Linked DNA regions of Homo sapiens: regions 2, 3, 4 and 5 are each reported to be linked to region 1. The links are microRNA targets in miRTarBase. Many come from high-throughput screens and were not tested one by one. Region 1 holds a microRNA gene; each other region holds the end of a gene's coding sequence.
What was found. The annotated mature microRNA hsa-miR-208a-3p reads AUAAGACGAGCAAAAAGCUUGU and lies in region 1 at 2,238-2,259, opposite strand. An mRNA with a match to its seed (bases 2 to 7 or 8) in the 3' UTR can be bound and repressed. Matches are read on the target gene's strand: a 7mer-m8 pairs with bases 2 to 8, a 7mer-A1 pairs with bases 2 to 7 and ends in A, and an 8mer does both.

Region 1 (4,489 bases):
TGCGGTTGGCGTGGCTGAGCTGGATCTCCATCTCATTGAGGTCTCCTTCCATCTTCTTCTTCACCCTCAGGACCTCGTTGCGGCTGCGTGTCTCTGCATCCAGGGAGGTCTGCAGCGAGTCCACCACCCGCTGGTGGTTGCGCTTGGCCTGTTCCATCTCCTCGTCCTTCTCTGCCAGCTTCCGCTCGATCTCTGCCTTGATCTGGTTGAACTCTAGCTGGGCCCGGAGGATCTTGCCCTCCTCGTGCTCCAGGGAGGCCTGGGAAGGGGTGGGGCGAGGGCGGGCAGACAGGGCACAGGGCAGGGTTGAGAGGGAGGATGAGAAGATACACGGTGTCAGCCAGGACTATCGCCCAGAGAAGAAGAGCTGAGAAGAGATGGGGAGGTGGGATCTGCACCCCATGCCCACCACGGTGCTATTGGGGAGAAAGTGCTGGACTCTCTGGGCTTCCCCTGTCAAGAAAAGGGTTTGGACCTCACAATTGCCAGACCCTCCAGCACTAACACTGCATAAATTCCTGACCTGTCTAAAGTATTATAGAAAATGGAGGAATTTTTATAACCACAAATACAAAATTTTATCTTGTTTTCCAGGTCCCTCACCCTTTCCTGAGAAAAGTTAGAAGCCCAGAAAACTCAGGGCTATTCCCAGGTGCTTAGAAATGAAGAGTAACAATAGCTAATATATATTAAGTGCTTAAATGTGTTACCTCATTTAATCTTTATAATAATCATGTGTAAAATCATATGAGGTATGTACAGTTAATTCCATTTTACAGATGAGAAAACTGAGGCAGAGAGAGATTAAAGATTTTGCCCAACGCTGCAGTGAAAGTCCTCAAGCTGTGTTCCAACTCAGGCCTGTTTGACTCTGGAACCCCACACTCCTACCCACTGTCTAAGTGGTTATTATTATGGCCAGATTCCAACTTTTAAAACCTGGTGGGAAACAAAACCTTTGGCCTCTAATCAGACTGACATTTTCCTTTGTGCAGACCTTGGCTTTGGAGGCAGTCATGGGTAGTGAATAGTGGGTAGATAATGTTGAACAAAGAATATGGAATGAATAGATTTTGTCCTGGGGTCAGGGTCACCCCCAGGTGAGGGAGAAGTGGGAGACAGCGGCAGAACAGGGATGGGGTGCAGGGAGTTCTCGGCCCTCACCTCTGCCTCCTCCAGGGCTGACTGCAGCTCCAGCTTCTCCACCTCCAGCTGTTTGCGGACCTTCTCCAGCTCATGCACATTCTTTCCTCCTTCTCCTAGCTGCTCAGTAAGGTCCGAGATTTCCTCTGGGGACCAGAGGGCCAGAAAGCTCAAAGCCTATGTTCCCCCTGCCCCTGCATGGCCCTCCCTCCCACCAACTCATCTCTGGCCTCTTGGACCCCCAGCACACCCTGAAGGTTCTTGTTCTCCCGCTTGAAGGTCTCTAGGTGCTCCAGGGACTCCTCGTAGGCGTTCTTGAGCTTGAAGAGCTCTGTGCTGAGGGAGCGAGCCTCCTTCTGTGAGGACTCCAGCTCAGACTGCGACTCCTCATACTTCTGCTTCCACTCGGCCAGGATCTGCCCGGGGACAAGGCTCACTCTTCAGCCCCCCAGCCTTAGCTCCCCAGCCCTCCTGCTTCCCAGTGCCCCAGCCCCCAGCCTCAGCCGCATGTCCAAGATCTGTCCCTGGTCCCGAGCCTGGGCTTAGCCCTCCTCCTCCACCTCCAAGGAGGTTGCCTTTGGCCTCTCACTGAACCCCTCATGCCCCCTTGCCCTGCATGCTGGCTGCGGCCCCCGCCCATGGTCCACCTTGTCAAAGTTTCTCTGCTTCTTGTCCAGGGCTGCAGCAGCAGCATTGGAGCGCTCTACGTCCACCATCAAGTCCTCTATCTCATTCTGTAGCCGGTGCTTGGTCTTCTCCAGTGAGGAGCACTTGGCATTAACAGCCTCCACGGCCTCCTCGGCATCCTGCAGCCGCTGGGCCAGCTTCTTTCTGCCCAGGTGAGGGTGGAGGGTGTGTGTGTGACTCTACTGGGCAACACTGGAGCCTTGGGTGGACCTCCTTCCACCCCCTCCCTATATCTCCTTGAGACACCGTAAGTCCAGCCTAGCAGGAGCTGAGCCTGCTCATGCCTGGAACAGAGTCCGCCAGCACGGGCTGCCCAGGCGTCCTCCCTACCTGCAGTGGCATCTGGGTGTCAGTGCCCCCTGCCCTCACCCCCCACACAGGCTGATCGACGGTAGCTCCTCTGACCAACAAGCTTTTTGCTCGTCTTATACGTGAGCATCAGGTATAACCCGGGCCAAAAGCTCGCCCGTCACAGGAAGTGGGTCAGGGCCAGCCAGAGTTCACAGAGCAAAGAGTTCAGGCTTTCTTCCAAGCACTTCTGTTGCCCTCCGAGTTCCTCCTGTCTCTTCCACTTCCGTCTCATGACCACTTTGCCTGTCCCCACCCCAGGTCCTCTCGCCCCTTCCTCTCTGAGAGTCAGGTTAAGGGGGTATCTGGAGCTCACTTGGCCTCTTCGAGCTCCTCAGTCCGCTGAATGGCGTCCGTCTCATACTTGGTCCTCCACTGGGCCACCTCCGAGTTGGCCTTGGACAGGACGCGCTGCAGCTCGGCCTTGGCCTCTGTCTCCTCCTCGTACTGCTCCCGCAGCAGGTCGCAGTCATGCCGGGCCGACTGCAGTGCATGGGCCAGGGCGTTCTTCGCCTGGGGAGGGGGGGGGGCACCAGGAGGTGGGAGGGACTCCCTGTGCCCCATTCTCTAGATTCTCTTCTTATGTAGTACTTCAACCAAGCCCAGCCTTATTCACCATGTGGGCTGATGTGGCACCTCACTGTTTGAGGAGTTTCCCAGTCTGCTCACCCCATCCCCTTACGAATAAGAAAAGAGGCATTAAATGACGCTTAGCTGCAGGGCAGAACCTAGACTGGAGGGTCTTTCCCTTGCAGAGGACTCTTTCCAGCTCCAGGCTCCATTTCTGGCACTGAGATGAATTGCCCCAGGGCTGCCATCAAGCCTGCCCACCCTCCCCACTGGGCCTCACCTTGCCCTCCTCCTCCAGCTGCCTTTTGAGGTCCTCCATTTGCTGGGTATAAGAGAGCTTCCCCCGGGTCAGCTGCGAGATTAGCGCCTCCTTTTCCTCTAGCTGCCGGGCCAACTCTCCTGGAGGTGAAATGAGGGGCTTGTGGGCCATTTCACAAGTCATGTCCTGCCCTAGGCAGGGGGTTGGTTAGGGGCACCCACCATTCTCGGTCTGCAGCTTGGCTCGCTGGGTGGTGAAATCATTGAGGGAGCGTTGGGCCTCTTCTAGCTTCACGCGGTACTCATTGGCCTGGTCCTCCAGCGTCCGAGACACTTTCTCCAGGTTTGCCTTCAGGAAGCAAGACAGGAAGGGTGAGTGTGGGAGGGGCTGAGTCGACCAGAGGAAGGAAGAGAGGGTCAGAGATGGGGAATGCCAGAGGGCAGGAGGGGGACACAGAAGGTGTGGGAGGGCGCAGTCTGAAGAGAGACTTGAATTAAAGAAAGGAGGAACATGAAGAGATAGAGAGGGTGAGGAGAGCCAGAGAGGGGCAGGGGAGACAGGAAGAGAGACCAAAGGGTGATGAAGAGAATGAGAATGACAAGGGAGATGGCAGACAGAGAGAGAAGGCATGGGGGAGGCTCCGCTGTGCAGGGGAGAGGGCGAGGGGAGGCCGAGCAGAGCCTGCCTTGGCCTTGATGATCTGCTCCATGTTGGAGGTGACGTCATCCAGCTCCAGCTTGAACTCGCTCTTCTCCTTCTCCAGCTTCTGCTTCACCCGCTGCAGGTTGTCGATCTGCTCGCCCAGCTCGGCCACGCTGTCGGCGTGCTTCTTGCGCAGGGCCGCGGCAGTGGCCTCGTGCTGCAGCGTGGCCTCCTCCAGGTCCCGCCGCATCTTCTGGAACTCGGCCTCGCGCTTCTTGTTCATCTCGATCTGCACGGACGTGGCCCCGCCGGCCTCTTCCAGCCGCTCGCTGATCTCCTCCAGCTCCCGAGACAGGTCTGAGCGCAGCTTCTCCACCTTAGCCCTGGCGGTGCGCTCGGCCTCCAGCTCCTCCTCCAGCTCCTCGATGCGTGCCTGGGTCAGACACAAAGGGCTCAGACCCACCGCCTGGACCCCTCCACTGGAATCCCCCCGGCTCTGAAAAGCTACCAGGAACTTAGGTTCCTCTCAAGCAGTGGTTCTCAACTAGGGGCAATTTTGTGCCCCAGGGAACAGTTGGCAATGTCTGATTGTCATGTCTTGGTGGGGCTTGCTACTGGCATCTAGAGGGTAGGGGCCAGGGATGCTACTAAACATCCTATAATGCATAGGCCATCAATAGGAATTTGGCTGAAGCTCCCAAGGGCATCTCAGACCCAGTGTGAGCATCTGCAGCCCCAAATCCTGAGAACCTGTGGTTGAAGGGGGATCCTGGTATCCTGTGAGATCAAGAAGTTCAGAGTCCCCAGATTCACTAGGCTCTGTTGCGCTATTCATAAGAC
Region 2 (4,000 bases), not on the chromosome of region 1:
GCTCTGTCGCCCAGGCTGGAGTGCAGTGGTGCGAGCTCTGCTCACTGCAAGCTCCACCTCCCAGGTTCATGCCATTCTCCTGCCTCAGCCTCCTGAGTAGCTGGGACTACAGGCACCCGCCACCACGCCTGGCTAACTTTTTTGTATTTTTAGTAGAGACGGGGTTTCACCACGTTAGCCAGGATGGTCTCGATCTCCTGACCTCGTGATTCGCCCACCTCAGCCTCCCAAAGTGCTGGGATTACCAGTGTGAGCCACCGCGCCCAGCCAAGAACTGATTTTAAAATAAATTCCATCTCAGCAATAACAATGAAAAATAAATGAATAAACAAATAAATTTGGTCTCAAGCATTCAGAAAGAGTAATTTTAATGCCTTGGTCGAAGAATTGTGACTCTATTTAATAGCTTAATTGCCTTTTTGTTTTTAATCTTTCCCAGCATGCTCATGCACATTCATCTGGATACTTCATCACTCAAGACTCTGCATTTGGGAACCTTATTCTTCCTGTTTTACCTCGCCTTGACCCAGAATGAAGAAAACATTTGCGATGGAAAAGTGACTTTGTAATATCAAATGCCAAAGCTACTATCATTCAGTGCTACATGAACTGTGACTTTAAGAATTTTGGTGAACTTTGATATTTTTTGTTTGTCTGAAAGAAAGGAATGTGTAAGTGAAAGCTGAAAGAAGAATAACCAGGATGATGAGAGCTGTGGAAGCTGTATCGTCCAAGGAATTGATTATGTACCGTGACTGTAACTTTTTTGTAATGCTGTTTAACTCTCAATCAGACTGTGAACTGGATGGTCACGAAGTCATTCCCCAACTCCTAGCAAGTTTGACTGAATATATCATGTCCACAGTAGATTTTCAAGAATCATTTATAGTACTTAACTTTAAAGAAACAAGGCTGCTTTTAAAAAATGAACTAATAGGCTTAAATCAATTGCATCCATATTTGCTGTTTATAGGATTGCTATCAGTATACCTTTTGCGTTTATAGTCAACATGTATCATCCTGAAATATTCTTTCTGGACTTATAACTACTTCCCCCTTTTTCACTTTAAAACAAACCTCAAGAATAAATTACTAACCAGTCTTAACCATCTTTTATAAACATATGCTCTTATAAATGTTGTGACTAGATGCAATTAAAAATAATAGGGAATGTGGTAGGTTTTTAATTTGTACATCCTCTTATTTAGTGTTACCACATAAATGATGAGTTTGTGTGGTTCTGTTTTCCATTTTTGTTCTAACTGAAAACTTTTTGGCTGGGCACGGTGCCTCATGCCTGTAATCCCAGCACTTTGGGAGGCCAAGGCGGGCAGATCACTTGAGATCAGGAGTTTGAGACCAGCCTGGCCAACATGGTGAAACCCTGTCTCTACTAAAAGTATAAAAAATTAGCCATGTGTGGTGGCACACGCCTGTAATCCCAGCTACTCAGGAGGCTGAGGCAGGAGAATCGCTTGAACCTGGGAGGCAGGGGTTGCAGTGAGCTGAGACGGTGTCACTGCACTCCAGCCTGGGTGACAGTGAGTCTTTGTCTCAAAGAAAAAAAGAAAAAGAAAACTTATGCAAGTCGAGCTCCTTTTTAATTAAGTAGGAAGGGATTAGGTTAAGAAAGTCTCTCAACATGACCCATCTTTAGCAGTATCTGGGGTGCTTATTTAAGTATGCAGTCCCACTACCCTACCCTAGTCCTACAGAATTAGAATCTGATTCAAAATAAAGTCTGAAAACCATGAGATAGAGAATTCTATGAAATATCTTGTACAGATTTTCGTGATATATTTATACACGCATGGGTTTGTAGATCCCTGAAACTTAGAGGTCATTTAGCTAAAATCTACATTTTTTTTAACTTTTAATAGGATTGAAATGATATTTTACACTGTATCACAGATACAGTATTTTATATAACTTTTTGTAACTGACCTTATCTTGGCCTTGAGTCCCATCCTCTCTGGTGGTAGCGTAAAACTGAAAATTCCAGTTTGGGTCAATATTTAGTGAAAGTTCTACTTTCTTTTCAGAGAGTTTGTTCCCCCCTTTCTTCCTTAGATGTTTTCAAACACACAGCCCCATCCTACTCAAACCAAGTGAAGCAAGAGTGGACAATTCTAGAATTGGCTGTGCCATGTAGGTTTTTTTTAGAATTTGAACTGATTTCCTTCATTTTGATGAGGTGGCAACTGTCCCCATTGTAATGGTCACCATTGCAGCGAGGATAGCCTTACTTCTGCGGCGCAGAGCTCCTCAGGGGGCCTCTGGCTCCTGTCCTTCCTCAGGTCCATCCAACTACTCCTTGGGCCTCCTTATGGTAGCCCTCATTGTCTTGAGTTGATTTCACTAGGTTTCTGTTCTCTGTCATCTGCAACATAACTGACATGGTTCTAAATCTGTCTCTAAGGAGATAACACATTAGTATATTTTCTACACTATTGAAGCCTCTACCTAATGTATGACTTTTGTAGCTCAGGTAAAGAGATCTTTTTACCAGTGTTATCGTTTCTAGTCTGTTTGTTAGTCTTCTTTTAAATAGATATGGCCTAAATCCTGTATTCCTGGCTAGGAAGCACTTCTCTCCACCCCTCTGCTTTGAGTTACAAATTCAATTCAATTTCCTATGTATTTATTAATACCTACAGATAAAGTACTGTGCTTTGGGGGACACAAAGGTGACTGGTACCTGCTCTTTTAGGAGGTCACCGTGCAGAGGATCCTATTCTGGTACACCAATAGTTATAAAGCAAGCCACAGCCTAGGCAACATAGTGAGACCCCTGTCTCTACTAAAAAATTAAAAAAAAAAAAAAAAGATTGGCTAGGTGTGCTGGTGCATGCATAGAGTCCCAGCCACTCGGGAGGCTGAGGTGGGAGGATTGCTTGAGCCTGGGAGGTTGAGGCTGCAGTGGGCCATGATTGCACAACTTGGCAACAGAGTGAGACCCTGTCTCTAAATCAATCAATCAAGCGAGCCAGAATGCAGTAGTGGCCTGAGAGAGGCATCCTGGAACGCAGTGCGGTCTGGCTAGGCTTAGAAGTATTCATGTGATTTTTACCTGACAAGGGAAGGAAGAGCTGCTCCACGTGCAGAGCAAGGTTTCAGAATGAGAGGAGAAGAGCAGGCACTGCAGAGGGTGAGGGAAAGGGCAGCAGTGGACTGGGAAGCCCTCAGGTGGAGGTCAGCATTGCTTCCCTCAGATCATGGGTGAATTTGAGGAACTCAGTTAATATCTTTGTATGTTCCTCCCTCCATAAGGTGAGAACAAGCACATGCTCTGCCCATGTCAGAAATTGTCTAGACTAGTGTTTTTCAAAGTGCAAAAGCCTCAACCCATTACTGAGTTGAGAAGCCAACTTAATGGTTTAACAGGATTGACCAGCATTTTTTCCGAAAAAATCAAAAACATCTGAGTGTACTGCATATAGAAATAGGTGGTTTTGCCTCATGAATATTCTGTTTCTGTGTGTTCCTATATTTTACTTTGTATTGTGTTGGTTTTTTAAGAGACAGTCCTGCTCTGTCATCCAGGCTGGAGTGCAGTGGTATAATCATAGCTCACTGCAAGACTCCTTGAATCCCTGGGCTCAAGCAATCCTCAACCCTTAGCCTCCCAAGTAGCTGAGACTACAGGCACATGCCACCATGCCCAGCTAATTTTTTTTTTTTTTTAATTTTTGTAGAGACAGCATCTTGCTATGTTGCCCAGGCTGGTCTTGAACTCTTGGCCTCAAGCAGTCCTCTCGATCCTCCCACCTTGGCCTCCTAAAGTGCTGAGATTACAGGTGTGAGCCACTGCATCTGGCTTACTTATTTTGTCTATTGTCTGTTCCACTAGTATGTAAAGTCTTAGAGAGCAAGAATTTTTGTTTATTTCTTTCTCTTCCTCCTTTCCTTTCTTCCTCTTTTACTTCGTTCACTACTGTATTCCACATAAAATATATTTGGCATATAGTAGGTGTTCAATATGTTGAAGGAATGAAAGAAT
Region 3 (4,000 bases), not on the chromosome of region 1:
CAATGGCATATATTAGTTGAACCTAGGAGTGGGCACAGATCAGAGCCAGTTGTGTTGGGAAAGAAGCCTCTTCTGTCCCTTGTTCCTCTGGGAATTCCTCAGAATGGCATTGGTTGTGTTGGGAGTCAGGATGGCAGGGGCAAAAGCTGGTTCTGTCTGGGGAATCGTCATCTTTAGTCCACCAGAGTTAGTCAGCAGACACAAATCTATGTCCATATTCTGGTTCCACTATTGCCCTGAAAACCAAGTATCCATCAGATGGCATTTAATTGATGCCTGTGATTGTGGTGTGTATGATAGCAAGAGCTTGGGCTTTAGAGTAAGGAGACTTTGGATAAGTGGCTTCACTTCCTCAAGCCTCAGTTTCTTTGTCTGTAAAATGAGAATAATTTAATTTATCTACAATAGGACAGATGTGAAACTGAGTGAGATGAACACCTGGTATGTTACAGGTGCTTTGAAAATGTCAGTTTCATCCTTCTTTCTGCAGGTTGGCATCACTGAAGGAGATGGCTCAAGGACTGGGAGTCTCCCAGCAAGTTCTGTGCAACTTTTGCAAGACTAGCTCCTTGCTGGCCCCCACATGCCCCATGCTAGGCCCCAATGTTCAGAGCTGGGACTTGAGCTCACAAAACTGGGGAGCTGAGACATTTGTTCTCTTGGATCTCACTCTCTCTGTCCCTTGTGCCTCTGTAGCTGGCCTTCTTCCTGCCACAGGCCATGCCTCTACCAAGGACACATGGCCTTTCCCTGTTAGGACTGATGGCGGTTCTTTCCTATCTCATTACCCGCTAGGGGCCTGGGAGCCCTGTGGCTGGATCTGAGTGCTCCTGAGCTGGCTTCAGCTGCAGAACTCTCAGTCCCTCATCAGATCGAGACTCTATTTCCCCCGTCAGTCTGGGGGCTTCACAAGGGCAGGAGAGCCCTCCATCACTGACTTCCAGATCAGGGACCCTGCCAAGTAGGGACTGTCTTCTCAGCCAGCCATTTATTAGTCTAATATTCCTTCACTAAATTCCAACTCTATGTCTGGACCTGTGTTAGGCACTTCAGATACCACACGAGTAAGACAAGGGCCCTGCAGGGGTGGTCCTTTGGTGGAAAGCTGGTCTTAAGGGTTGGGCTTGGGAATAGGCAGGGTCAGATTCCAGGGCATGGCTCTGGACTCAGCTGGTTTATACCTATATGACCATTACAATTGTCTACAGATCACATCCATTCTGGCTGGTCAACATGCATGCTGTACTGGCTGTTAAATAAAAATATTCTGAATGTCACTCCTTTTGAGGGACAGCACAGCCTTCCCTAGGCATTCTCCTATATTCCCCAGCCAAATTGTAGAGTCAGATGCACCCACATTTGCCTGTGTCCTTGATTTAGCAGGAAGGAAAGGAATAGTCAGGGTTGATGGATGCCCACTTCTCTTCTCTTTCTCTTGGTCAACTCAGGAGCCTTTTAGTCTGAGGGAATGGAGAGGCAAAGAAAGAAGGGAGAGTAATAGAATTGGGAGGGCAGAGACTTAAGGGTTCTGCTTCCCAGCCCTAGAAATTCTATCATTGCTCAGCCCCAATGAGAAAGCAGATACACCTAAGCCATCATCAACCACTAACATCTCAACTTGCCAGTTGCTGGGTGCTGGGCCCTGGCAGGAATGGGCCAAGCCAAGCAGGGGAGACTAGAGAGCACCAATGGCCAACACAGCTGCCTGGCTGGGGAGGCTGTGCTGTTTCCCCTGGAGACCTGACTGGTCTGTGGTTCCCACAGGAACAGGGTTGTCTTTTGAGCCCCCAGTGTCTGGTTTCATTCATCTCAGACTTGTTATTTCACTCATCTCTAATAAAGGATTGGGGGGTCAGTTTCCAGTGGTTTCATTTATGTGATCTAAAGAGCAACAGGGAGGGGAAAGGAATCTTGGGGCTTGAAATTCTTTCTCTGGACCTGGCAAGGGAGATGGCCTGATGTGGAATAGTGGTTTGCAACCACAGTGTTTTGCCCCGGGGAACTTCTGATAAAGCAGAAAACAGTTTTGACTGTTCCCAACTGGAGGATGCTAGTGGCATTTAGTGGACAAAGGTCAGGGATGCTACTAAACATCCTACGGTGCATAGGTCAACCCTCCCTAGCAATGCATTATCCAGTCCAAAATGTTAATAGTGCCAAGGTTGAGAAACCCTGGAAAGAGCACTGGACTAGGAGTCTGGAGACCTGAAATTCTAGCTCTCCCATGGTCCTCTGCCACTGTCTCTGTTGACTGCCCCTGAGACAAGGATTTGGGAGCAAGTAGCTTATCTGTGAAATGATCCCAGGAAGCATAATGAGGGAATAGAGAAATGAAACAGAAAGTCAAAGATAAAGAGCTGTGCGTGTTGGTGAGAACCTATACTCCAGCTACTCGGGTGGGAGAATTGCTTGAGCCCAGGAGTTCAAGGCTGCAGTGAGCCATGATGGCGCCACTGCACTCCAGCCTGAACAACAGAGCGAGACTCTGTCTCTAACTCTTGTTGGGGACCTGTGAGAAGGAGTATTGACTAGAACATGCCTTCAGGTTGTCCCATCGAGAGTGAAGAAATGATGTTTTCCACCAACTCTGGTTTCTTGCTGGTTGGGGGTGTCCTTTCTGAGGGCATCAATTTCCTACCACCCCAAAGCTCCAAATAGAGAAATGTGGGGAGCTGTCCAAGGTGTGTCCAGGAATTATCTTCCAGTGACCTGTAGGGTGGACAGGTAGGCAGAGGGGATATGATGGTATCAACAGGGTCCAACCCTGAGAGAATCATCACCCTCTTTAGGCCTCGGTCTTCCCATCTATACAATAAAGAGGTTGGACTCCATGTTTTCTTAGGGGCCTTCATACCCTGACATTCTAGGAGTCTTAACTTTTTTTTGATGTCGCGCATCTCAGGGTGGTGACTGGGTGGAAGTTTGAGAAAAATCTCTCTCTCTCTCTTTTTTTTTTTTTTTTGATGGCTCTGTCTCCCATACTGGAGTACAGTGGCACAATCAGAGCTCACTGTAACCTTGAACTCCTGGGCTCAGGCAAGCCTCCTGCCTCAGCCTTCCGAGTAGCTGGGACTATAGGCCCACGCCACCATGCCCAGCTTTTTAAAATATTTTGTAGAGACGAGGTCTCTCTCTGTTGCCCAGGCTAGTCTTGAACTCCTGGCTTCAAGCAATCCTCCTGCTTTGGCCTCCCAAAGTGCTAGGATTACAGGCATGAGCCACTGCTCCTGGCCTTTTTTTTAATAAGGCAATCCTAAGTAGCCTCAGGCTGCTGAGGTTGAGTCTCTTCAACCCAGAAGGGCTTGGCTGGGATTGGCCAAAAGGCCTCCCAGAGAATCCCAAACCATTAGAGTCTAACTTCCCAAATGTGACCGGCAGGCACTGCATGCTCAGGTCCCACCCACTGCCTCTCCCCACACTCCTCACCTCTGTGCTGCAGCCACGCCAATTTTTCAGTTCCTCCAACACTGTCAGGCAGGCCAGGCACCCTCCCATCCCTAAGCTTTGCACATTTGGAACTCCAAGAGGGGAGGACTGTTTTGTTCCTCTCTGGATGTCCAGAACAAGAACTACCTGGCACATATTAGGTGCTCCATAAATATATGTTGAATGCCTCTTCCTTTCTTCCGTGAACACTCTTCCTCCTCCCCTCAACGGCCACTGTGTACTTCAGCCCAAAGTTTAAACTTCGTTTCTTCAGAGAAGTTGACACCCTAAATAGTGCAGGTCCCCTCAAATGTGTCCTTAAGCTATCCTCCACTGCTTCCTGCCCTTCACCCCAGCTATGATAAATGCATTAATTGACTATGTCTGTTTTTGTTTAAGGTTTCTCTTGCCCATAGACTGAGTCTCAAGCTTTCTGGGACTGGGTCTGTCTTGTTCATTGCTTGGACACTCAATACGTATTTGTTGAATGGATGAAAAAAACCCACTCTGTCCTACCTTGATCCCCGTCACATAGCAATTAGAAGATAGGTGTCCACACCAAGCTGCCTCTGCG
Region 4 (4,000 bases), not on the chromosome of region 1:
CTGACCTCAGGTGATCCACCCGCCTCAGGCTCCCAAAGTGCTGGGAACACAGGCGTGAGCCACCGTGCCCAGCCATGTCTACCAACTTCCATGAAAGATGACAGAAGGAATGCTGAGACCAGCACTTCGGGATCCTCCCTGCCGCAGTCTCGGCCTGCTTTCCGCCACTGTGGTTCTCCATAAAGGAGAGTGTCTTCCAGGCAGTGGGAATTGCAAGGATGGCCTTGGAGCCAGAACCACCTGTGTGCACTCCCACCTTAGTGATTTACAAGCCACATGTCTCCTGTGTGTGAATGAATGCCTCTGAGCCTCATTTGTCAGCTCTGTAAAGCTGAGGGGCTCACGCTTCTCCTGGGCTTGCTAAGGATTCAGGGGTTAATGCAGGCAGAGTGCCTGGGCCAGGTCTGCTCCACTGCGTGGCAGCACTAGTTGTGACAGCTACGTGACAGAAGTGCTGTCCACACGACAACATGTAAGCCTCGTGCCCCTCCACCCTCTTCTTGCCCTGTTCACATCAACGGGCGCACAAGTGGACGTGGTGGAGGTGGAATGCGGAAGGTGGAGGACAGAAAGGGGCCGAAGGCCCACAGTTTGTAAGCCGGGGCAAGTGCCACATATTTTTATGTATCCAGAGTGATCTCTGACAAGGGTTGGAGTGACCTGTGTCATCTATATACCCGAAAGCACAGCCAGAGGAAGCCTTGATTCTCTCCTGTCAGCAGGGTAGTGAACAACTCACAAAATGGCCTGATTTCAGAAGTTTGGGATCAACTGAGAATATGTTTATTTAAAAGCAATTTTAAATATTAAAAAAAGTAGAAATTAACACATACAGTACTGAAAAACTGTCACATTAAACACATGTGAAATGACAAGTGTACTGATGTTTGATGGTAACATCCAGATGAGAATTCGGCATTTAACTAGTGGCACTACAGGATTCCTATACAACATGTTGAAGTTCTAGGCAATAAAAAAATAAATAGCAATTGCTGTTCAACAGTAAAATAAGACACACACTATTTGCAGAACATAACTTTCCCCTCTGGGGGAAAAAGAACTAATTTGCTATTTTTTTTTCATAAGGTTCCATATCTTCAAAATACTATATAATGTACAAAATTGCAGATAGTGGCTTACTGAGTTTAAGATCAAGATCAGACTTAAACTCAACAAGATCACCAAAGGTATTTCTACTGAGTTTTCCTATGTCCCACAGTAAGCTGGGTTAGAGAGAACTCAAATTCCTGATGGAAAACAAAACCGAACAAAAAAACTAGAAAAAAAAGGTGTTAAAAATGCTGTGTAAGTTGCTGCAAAAGGGGAAAAAGAATAGACACTAACTCCATGTAATTTTAGACATGCAGCTTTTGTGTTTTTTTTTTGTTTTTGTTTTTTTTTTTTTTTTGAAAAAAACCAGTTTATTTTGAGATCAGTGAAAAGAGTCTAGGCCACAGAAAAGAACAGCTCTTTAATGCAAGTTAAAATGTGTAAATGAATGACCGGGACACTGAGCAACCTCAGATGCAGACTTCCATCCGGACACTGGTGTGGCTTCAGTACCGAGGCTGCTAAAGCTGCCAGTCACAACCCAGCATGTCAACTGGTTCCTCATGCTCTGTTTGGTGTGGAAATTCACATGTGCCCTGACACTGAGGAAGCAATTGCTTAAAATCACTTTCCAATAACAGCTGATAAAATATTTTGCAGGTTTGTCATGCAAGGTTTATTTATTAGGTGGCTATTCAAAGTTTGTATAGCAACCACTTAAGCAGAACTAAATTAATATTCACTGAGCACTGTAACGATGGAAGAGGGCTTTTCCTAAGGGTTGGGTTGGGAGTTGTGCTTCTGTGAAATTAACATCTCTCACTCATTGCCAAGATTCTCTGCTTAAAAATATTAGTTTTCTGTGCTGTTGCCAAAATAGCAATTTAAGCAAATGTAGTGCCAGAATGACACATGAGCCTCGGACTCAGGGAACAGTTCCACTGACTGTGGAGTACAACTATTGCATTCTTTTCCAAAATTCAGACTGATGTAAAAGACTGAAATACAATGTTCTTAAGGATCTGATAAACATGGCTGGGATGAAAAGAAAACTGAGAGGGAAGAGTGCTTTTCACAGTGCAATTCATAGCAGCGTTCAAAAACTTGGTTATGAATTGACTTGAAGGTGGACAGAGCTTAAGACTGGAAAAATTATCTATAATTGGGGTTTAACAAAGAGCATGGGAAAAGAAACACTTGGTTTCAGCACCTGGATTCTACATACAGTAGGGAAACTGTGTGAAGGGTTGACTTTTAAATTCATCTTGAATAATCTTTTAAAAGTTTAAATTTGTCCAAGAACAAAACTAAGAAAATAATAAAAAATGGATGCAATGGATGCTTCAACACATCTGAGAGATGTGCATTCATAACACAATATGTCAATCCATACTCTTGAGAAAGCCAGTGATTAGAAACAAATATTGTTGCAACCTTATAATTTCTGCTTTAATGGCAATCAAGTTTAAAAAATGTACAATTCCACTTATCCATACTATTCCTTTATAAAAGGCAGATTTCAGGTAAGCTTCTAAATGCATGCGTAATGTAGAGGCTAATATTTTCTGGCAGTCCTTGGTTCCTGAAATTTGAACTTCATATGTGTTTTAAACTTTTGTCAAAATAGTCATGAAAGATATGTTATTTTTGCATAATGAGGTAATATATCAGGGGCGGGCACTCATAAGACAGTATAAATCCACTTGTCTAAACTTGCATGAGGCTGTGTGCATTGTAAAATGCCATAAAGAGTTTTGGGTCAGTGAATATTTTGCTGAAGGAATAACACTTACATTTAACTGAGCACTTTTCTGTAATAAATACCAAAGTAGGTTTTTGTAGCTGTAAACTGTGTACACAGATAACTACAGGCTGGTCTGTCATGGAGCTAAAAGTTTCACCTGGAAAACAGAACCCACCTCTTTGCTAATGTTGCATTTTCAGTAACACAATTGAGAATACTGCATTGTTAGGAACAGAGTCAATTCTATGCCTTTCAACGGTTGCTGGAGACCACTTCTATTTGCAAAGCCAGCAGTTCCTATACTCCTATTTTTGTTTGTTTGCTTGTAGAACAGCATAGAGAGATGTAAGTGCTAGATGCCAAGGATGGCTTTGGCAAACCAGTAAGGCGCGCCGGGTCCGAGGCTACCCTCATACTGGTGAAGGCAGAAAACCACAGGATATTTACAACACACATTATATCCCCCTCCTGAGGTGGCCCTTCCATGAGTTTCTTACTCTGTAACAGCAGCTATATACACACTGTGCCCAGGGTTACATGAAGGCAGCAGTCTTGCATGAAGGATGTGGACAATCTTAAGGTTCTGCGTTTTGCTAGTCAGACAGGATATGAACAAAGGACACTGGAAAGACCCCCTTCCTTTCAGGCTGTCCTTCGATGTGGCCAATCTGCAGGGAGAAAAGAGAGTGGTCAGGATGGAGGCAGCAGGCAGTGGCCCCACGACAAACCCAGTGGGTAAGAGCCCAGCCTAGTCTGCCCACAGACCTGGCGGTGGAATCCCAGGCTTACCCTTCTTCCCACCCTTTAGTGAACTACAGAGAGCTTAACGGTCATAAACTACATAAGGAAAGAGCAAACGACAGAACTTCCAATATGCTCAGCATTCTACATGGATCTTGCTGTACCCACACAGCAACCCCCTGAGGTGGATATTTCTTATACAGTTTACAATCTTCATTTTACAGATGAAGGGACAGTGGCCCAGAGAGGTGACATGCTCTCCCACAGGCGTGGGGCTCTAGAGTCCTTGCTCTGAACCAGGGCGCCTGGCTGCCTTTACAGCTGGGTGACCTCACACAAACCTTGCTAAGCCTTTTCTCTGTTAAGTGGGGCTAAAGAAAATCCCTTCTCTCCAGGCTTGTGTGATACATTTAAAAAAGAAAAAAAAAAAAAAAAGCAAATGAAAAGGCTGCTATGGCACCTGGC
Region 5 (4,000 bases), not on the chromosome of region 1:
GAATAGTAATGACACCCATTACTGTGGATGAGTTTTCTCAATTTTAAAATAGCGATTGCACAGAAGTGGTAAATAAAACATTAATCTCTATGTATCTTTGAAGGTATTATTCATATGGAGCGGAATCATTTGGCAAATCATTTACTTATTTCAGGTGTTTAAGATAACCTAGTATAATAAGCCTGAGGTCTTGTTGCATATTTATTTAAAATGCATGACGTCTTATTATATAAAATAATTACTAGCTCTTTAGAAGCTTCAGAGGTGAAAGGTGTAGACACATCATCTCCTTCTGAATCAGAGACCTCAGTGTCTCTATGGAACCTTTTTCAAAAGGCAGCCACATTCAGTCACGCCTTCTATACTGTCAGAGGCAGGAGGGCGATCTTGGGTTTTGGATGATTCAAGTAGACTCTGCCACACAAACGTGCTTCTGCATCCTGTGTTCTGTATTTCACGGGCAGCGTTTCTGGCTTCCCAGGCACTGAGCAGCCTGTGGGGGGCACGGCAGGGCAGGACTGGGGTGTGTGGGTAGATAACCTCCTGGGACGGCTGCCTCTCTGTGGAGCACACTGCCAGCCCAGGCGCAGCGACCACAGAGCACATATTCTGGAGCCCTTCATTTTATTTGCTCAATGAAAATACTTCGTCCTTTTTTATCAGCAATACATATAGTTCCAACAAGAACTATTCATCACAAACTGCCAGCCTGGGGATTTCTTCATGAAATATTTTGTATTTGCTTGGTACATGGTTCAAGGAAACTCTTGTGTTTGTGCCAATCAGGGAAATAAACTGAACAATAAACGACACTGAAATAGAGTATTAGGCAATATGTAGCTTTGTTTTTGCTTTTTTTTTTAAAAAAAACCACTGAATTTTTTTCCACCCACAAACACATGGAAAGTGCAGAAACCAGTTAATCTATGTGATGTATTTGCATACGTTTACAAACAAGACAAATTAAAACAGAAACATGTTCAGAATTTAACCTGATTAAATATTAAGTTCAGTCCTGAGCTTTTGATATTTAAGACAATATAGATAAAGCAATAGCAAAAAATTTTAATTTATTTGATTTGCATGCTACAGAGATTTAGCTAAACTTTGTTCATTTGGCTAGCAATATTCTTTTTGTACCTGTAACACTTAAGATTCTGATATACAAAATTGTAATAATATACTGATAATTCAAACTTGAGAACTAAATATTACATTCTTTTTACCCTGTGCGAATAAATTCTACCTTTTAAAAATAGTATTTATAATATTAAAATTCATATTTGTCCATATGGTTTTGTGATCAAGTTATTAAAATGTTTTGTCACTGTGAATCATTTGGGTTAGTACAAATATGACAAGATTATTAAAAGCTGCCTATAAATACATAACACTATTGCTGACTTTTAAAGTGTAGAAAAAGGATTATATTAAAATAAGTTCATCTCTCATGTTAGAAATGAGGAAATTTTGTGAAATACAACAACCAAAAGCATCTTGGTCACAACTGCTAACTACCAGCCTGAGACAGATTTTATTCTTTAATACTTGTCTGAAACTTTTTGTATTACAAAAAGTCAACAGCTAATCTGATGAAAGACTTATAAAGCTGTAAATATTCCAATATAGTCTCTTCTGTGTCAAATATTTAAAATGGCCAGAATCAAACTATATATTAAACAGAACATAAATAAGACTGTAAATAAATAAATGAAGAAAATAAAATCGTACGGAACAACTACACATAATTCTATAGACATTTTCATGGTCAAACTAAGATGCTGAAAACAGCTCACCTTCATTTACCTCTACATTAAATAAACTTCTGTCTTTCACATTTGACCTTGACAAGGGTGAACTGTATTCTTTTTCTAGTTTTCCTTAGTCATCTAATAGAATGAACTGGGCAGCCTTAAAGGACTGTACTCAGTCAATTCACTAGGCTGGTTTTTGTTCAAAGCAGTGTCTGCCATGTCCAGTTATGTCTTCAAAGAAATTTGTATGTAAGTGTTGGGACATTTAGGAAAAAGTAATTAAAGTTCTAGGCTCAGAAGTTGCTTAATTTGAACTTCAATTCCAATAACATGAACTTTCCAAAATATATATAATTGCTTTCAAGAAAATAAAAATTCTTGCTAGTGAGCTAGTGAGCATTCTAACTGAGGAACAAAACTTTTTTTTTTTTTCTTCAAGGGGTCCATTCCTTTAAGACAATTTTGGATTTCTTTAAAAAATCTATTTTATTTGCTATATTAGATGGCTAACCCAAAATTGTTTCTTGGGTTATTGAGTAATAAGTATGGTTTAAATGGCCTAAATACTACATATTTTAAAAGCCTTGATGCTGGCAGAGCTGCACTGAGGATCTGTGTTTTTAAGAAGTGCCTGGGTCGGGTAAGGTGAAATTCTAAACTGGAGGACACATTAGTCAGTTTATCTCTCTAAACTTGTTCATCCAAAATAGGCTTTTTAATAAACAATTTAGCTTATACTTCAAATTAATAATCCCCCCACACACATTCTTCCCTTTGCCTCCCAACTATTTACCATAAATTATAGATAGAACCCCCTAAAAATGAGAGCTATGAAGTAGTTTCTACTAAATGTTAGAAATCTGCTTGATAAACTCTTCTTTGTTTTTGGCAACTTTGATTCTATCAAGACATCTTTCCCCCTCTTCTTGGTTACACCAAATGAGTGCCGATGCATTTCCCTCCACCCCTCCAGCTCTCTCTGTCCTCAGAACACAGGGCCACCACTAGGCACCATCCTTAGATTTAGGGCAAAACACTAGTGCAAGCCAGAAACTCACTTTTGAACACTTAATGCAAATTCAGGCTGAGTGAGACAAACCAGCTGCTCATTTGATGAGCTTATTTGTATCTCTGCGTGGCTGGTGTTCTTTCTTCTCCCTGCCCTCAGTGTCATGAATCCCAAGATCTTTCGTGTAGCCAAGAGTAGTGCTCCTTTGTATTCTTATTCTTATTTTTATTCTTAAGAGCACTTGGTAGTTTATATCTTAGTTTTCTTTAGAAAAATATAAAAGGACAAAAAGGAAATTGTCTTAAGGAAACCAGGTGTTCCCGCACAGGTGATGGCCGTGGACGCAGCATCCATTTCGGGCGGACTTTGGAACGCTGCACTCCAGCGTGTGCTCACACTGCCTCCAAATGGAAAGCGCTCCTCTCCTCGCCAGCGCACAGATACCACGTGGCGCTGCTGCCATCGGCACAGCCTACTCACAGGAACACAAAGGAGAAGCAAAACCACCGGCTGAACCAAGTTGTTTCTCAACAGCCGGCTCAACAGTACACATGTGGGGTACTGCCTCTATTCCATTTTTACAAAATGAAGTCCACTGGCAATGCGCACATACTGGGCAACATTTGTGTACCAGGTTATCCCATCTTTCTTATATGATTTTTTCTTTTTTAAGCATATAAAAATTACACTCAAGGTACTTTACAAATTAATGTGTTGAAAATCTGATGTGAAATAAAAGTTCTTCAAGAGTTGACAGTTACGTTACCAAAAAAAACCAAACACCAAAACAAAAACACAAATCTTCAGTCTTTTACCCTCCCTAAGAAAGTGAACAGATGAAAAAATAATTTCTTAAGTCATGTAATCACACATCATCAGCTGGCAGGGATGGGATGCTTATCTTTGCTCTGGTGAAGTAGGCAATCTTCTCCCTAGAGTTGGGGTGAGAAATAAATTGACTTATATATGATGCTAAAAATACTCTGGGACCATTAAAACAGTCCCCAAGACCTGCAGTGGCAGTGATGTCTCTGCAAGCACAGGTAGAAGCTCTTTTCCTTACGCAGAACTCCATTTAAAATCAGGAGAGCCTCTGCCTGCTTAAAGGGGGGGTATCAAGGAGAACAGCAGCTCTGGATCACGGAAGTCACCTACAGACCAAGCCCGTAAGTTCCCTTCAGGGAACTTCCAACAGAAGACAGTTTTTAAACTAGTAGGGGTTTGGTCTAGGATGGGT

Region 2: the mRNA of INIP is a reported target of hsa-miR-208a-3p. Seed matches in the 3' UTR shown: 7mer-A1 at 1,100-1,106.
Region 3: the mRNA of ASAP3 is a reported target of hsa-miR-208a-3p. Seed matches in the 3' UTR shown: 7mer-A1 at 1,109-1,115.
Region 4: the mRNA of ASAP1 is a reported target of hsa-miR-208a-3p. Seed matches in the 3' UTR shown: 7mer-A1 at 2,188-2,194.
Region 5: miRTarBase lists WWC2 as a target of hsa-miR-208a-3p. Seed matches in the 3' UTR shown: 7mer-A1 at 2,206-2,212 and 7mer-A1 at 1,031-1,037.

Annotation. Positions count from the first base shown.
Region 1 is chr14:23,386,365-23,390,853 of GRCh38, forward strand. It overlaps MIR208A (microRNA 208a), which reads right to left and starts at 2,302; the gene lies at 2,232-2,302. MYH6 (myosin heavy chain 6) reads right to left here. Exons shown (of 39, transcript NM_002471.4): 26 at 3,693-4,082; 27 at 3,229-3,355; 28 at 3,029-3,147; 29 at 2,495-2,691; 30 at 1,791-1,974; 31 at 1,394-1,559; 32 at 1,165-1,289; 33 at 1-259. RefSeq lists enhancers at 1-530, 2,580-3,183, 3,184-3,787.
Region 2 is chr9:112,684,073-112,688,072 of GRCh38, reverse strand. It overlaps INIP (INTS3 and NABP interacting protein), which reads left to right. Exons shown (of 5, transcript NM_021218.3): 5 at 440-4,000. The coding sequence ends at 535. Among named protein-coding and RNA genes, the nearest start is that of INIP, 32 kb to the left of the region's middle.
Region 3 is chr1:23,426,421-23,430,420 of GRCh38, reverse strand. ASAP3 (ArfGAP with SH3 domain, ankyrin repeat and PH domain 3) reads left to right here. Exons shown (of 25, transcript NM_017707.4): 25 at 491-1,858. The coding sequence ends at 565. It overlaps LOC124903875 (a long non-coding RNA gene), which reads right to left. Exons shown (of 3, transcript XR_007065535.1): 3 at 1,438-2,709. Among named protein-coding and RNA genes, the nearest start is that of TCEA3, 3.7 kb to the right of the region's middle.
Region 4 is chr8:130,051,344-130,055,343 of GRCh38, forward strand. ASAP1 (ArfGAP with SH3 domain, ankyrin repeat and PH domain 1) reads right to left here. Exons shown (of 30, transcript NM_018482.4): 30 at 761-3,462. The coding sequence ends at 3,388. Among named protein-coding and RNA genes, the nearest start is that of ASAP1-IT2, 31 kb to the right of the region's middle. RefSeq lists a silencer at 3,659-3,861.
Region 5 is chr4:183,315,358-183,319,357 of GRCh38, reverse strand. It overlaps WWC2 (WW and C2 domain containing 2), which reads right to left. Exons shown (of 23, transcript NM_024949.6): 23 at 1-3,695. The coding sequence ends at 3,629. It overlaps CLDN22 (claudin 22), which reads left to right. Exons shown (of 1, transcript NM_001111319.3): 1 at 1-1,258. Among named protein-coding and RNA genes, the nearest start is that of CLDN22, 2.9 kb to the left of the region's middle.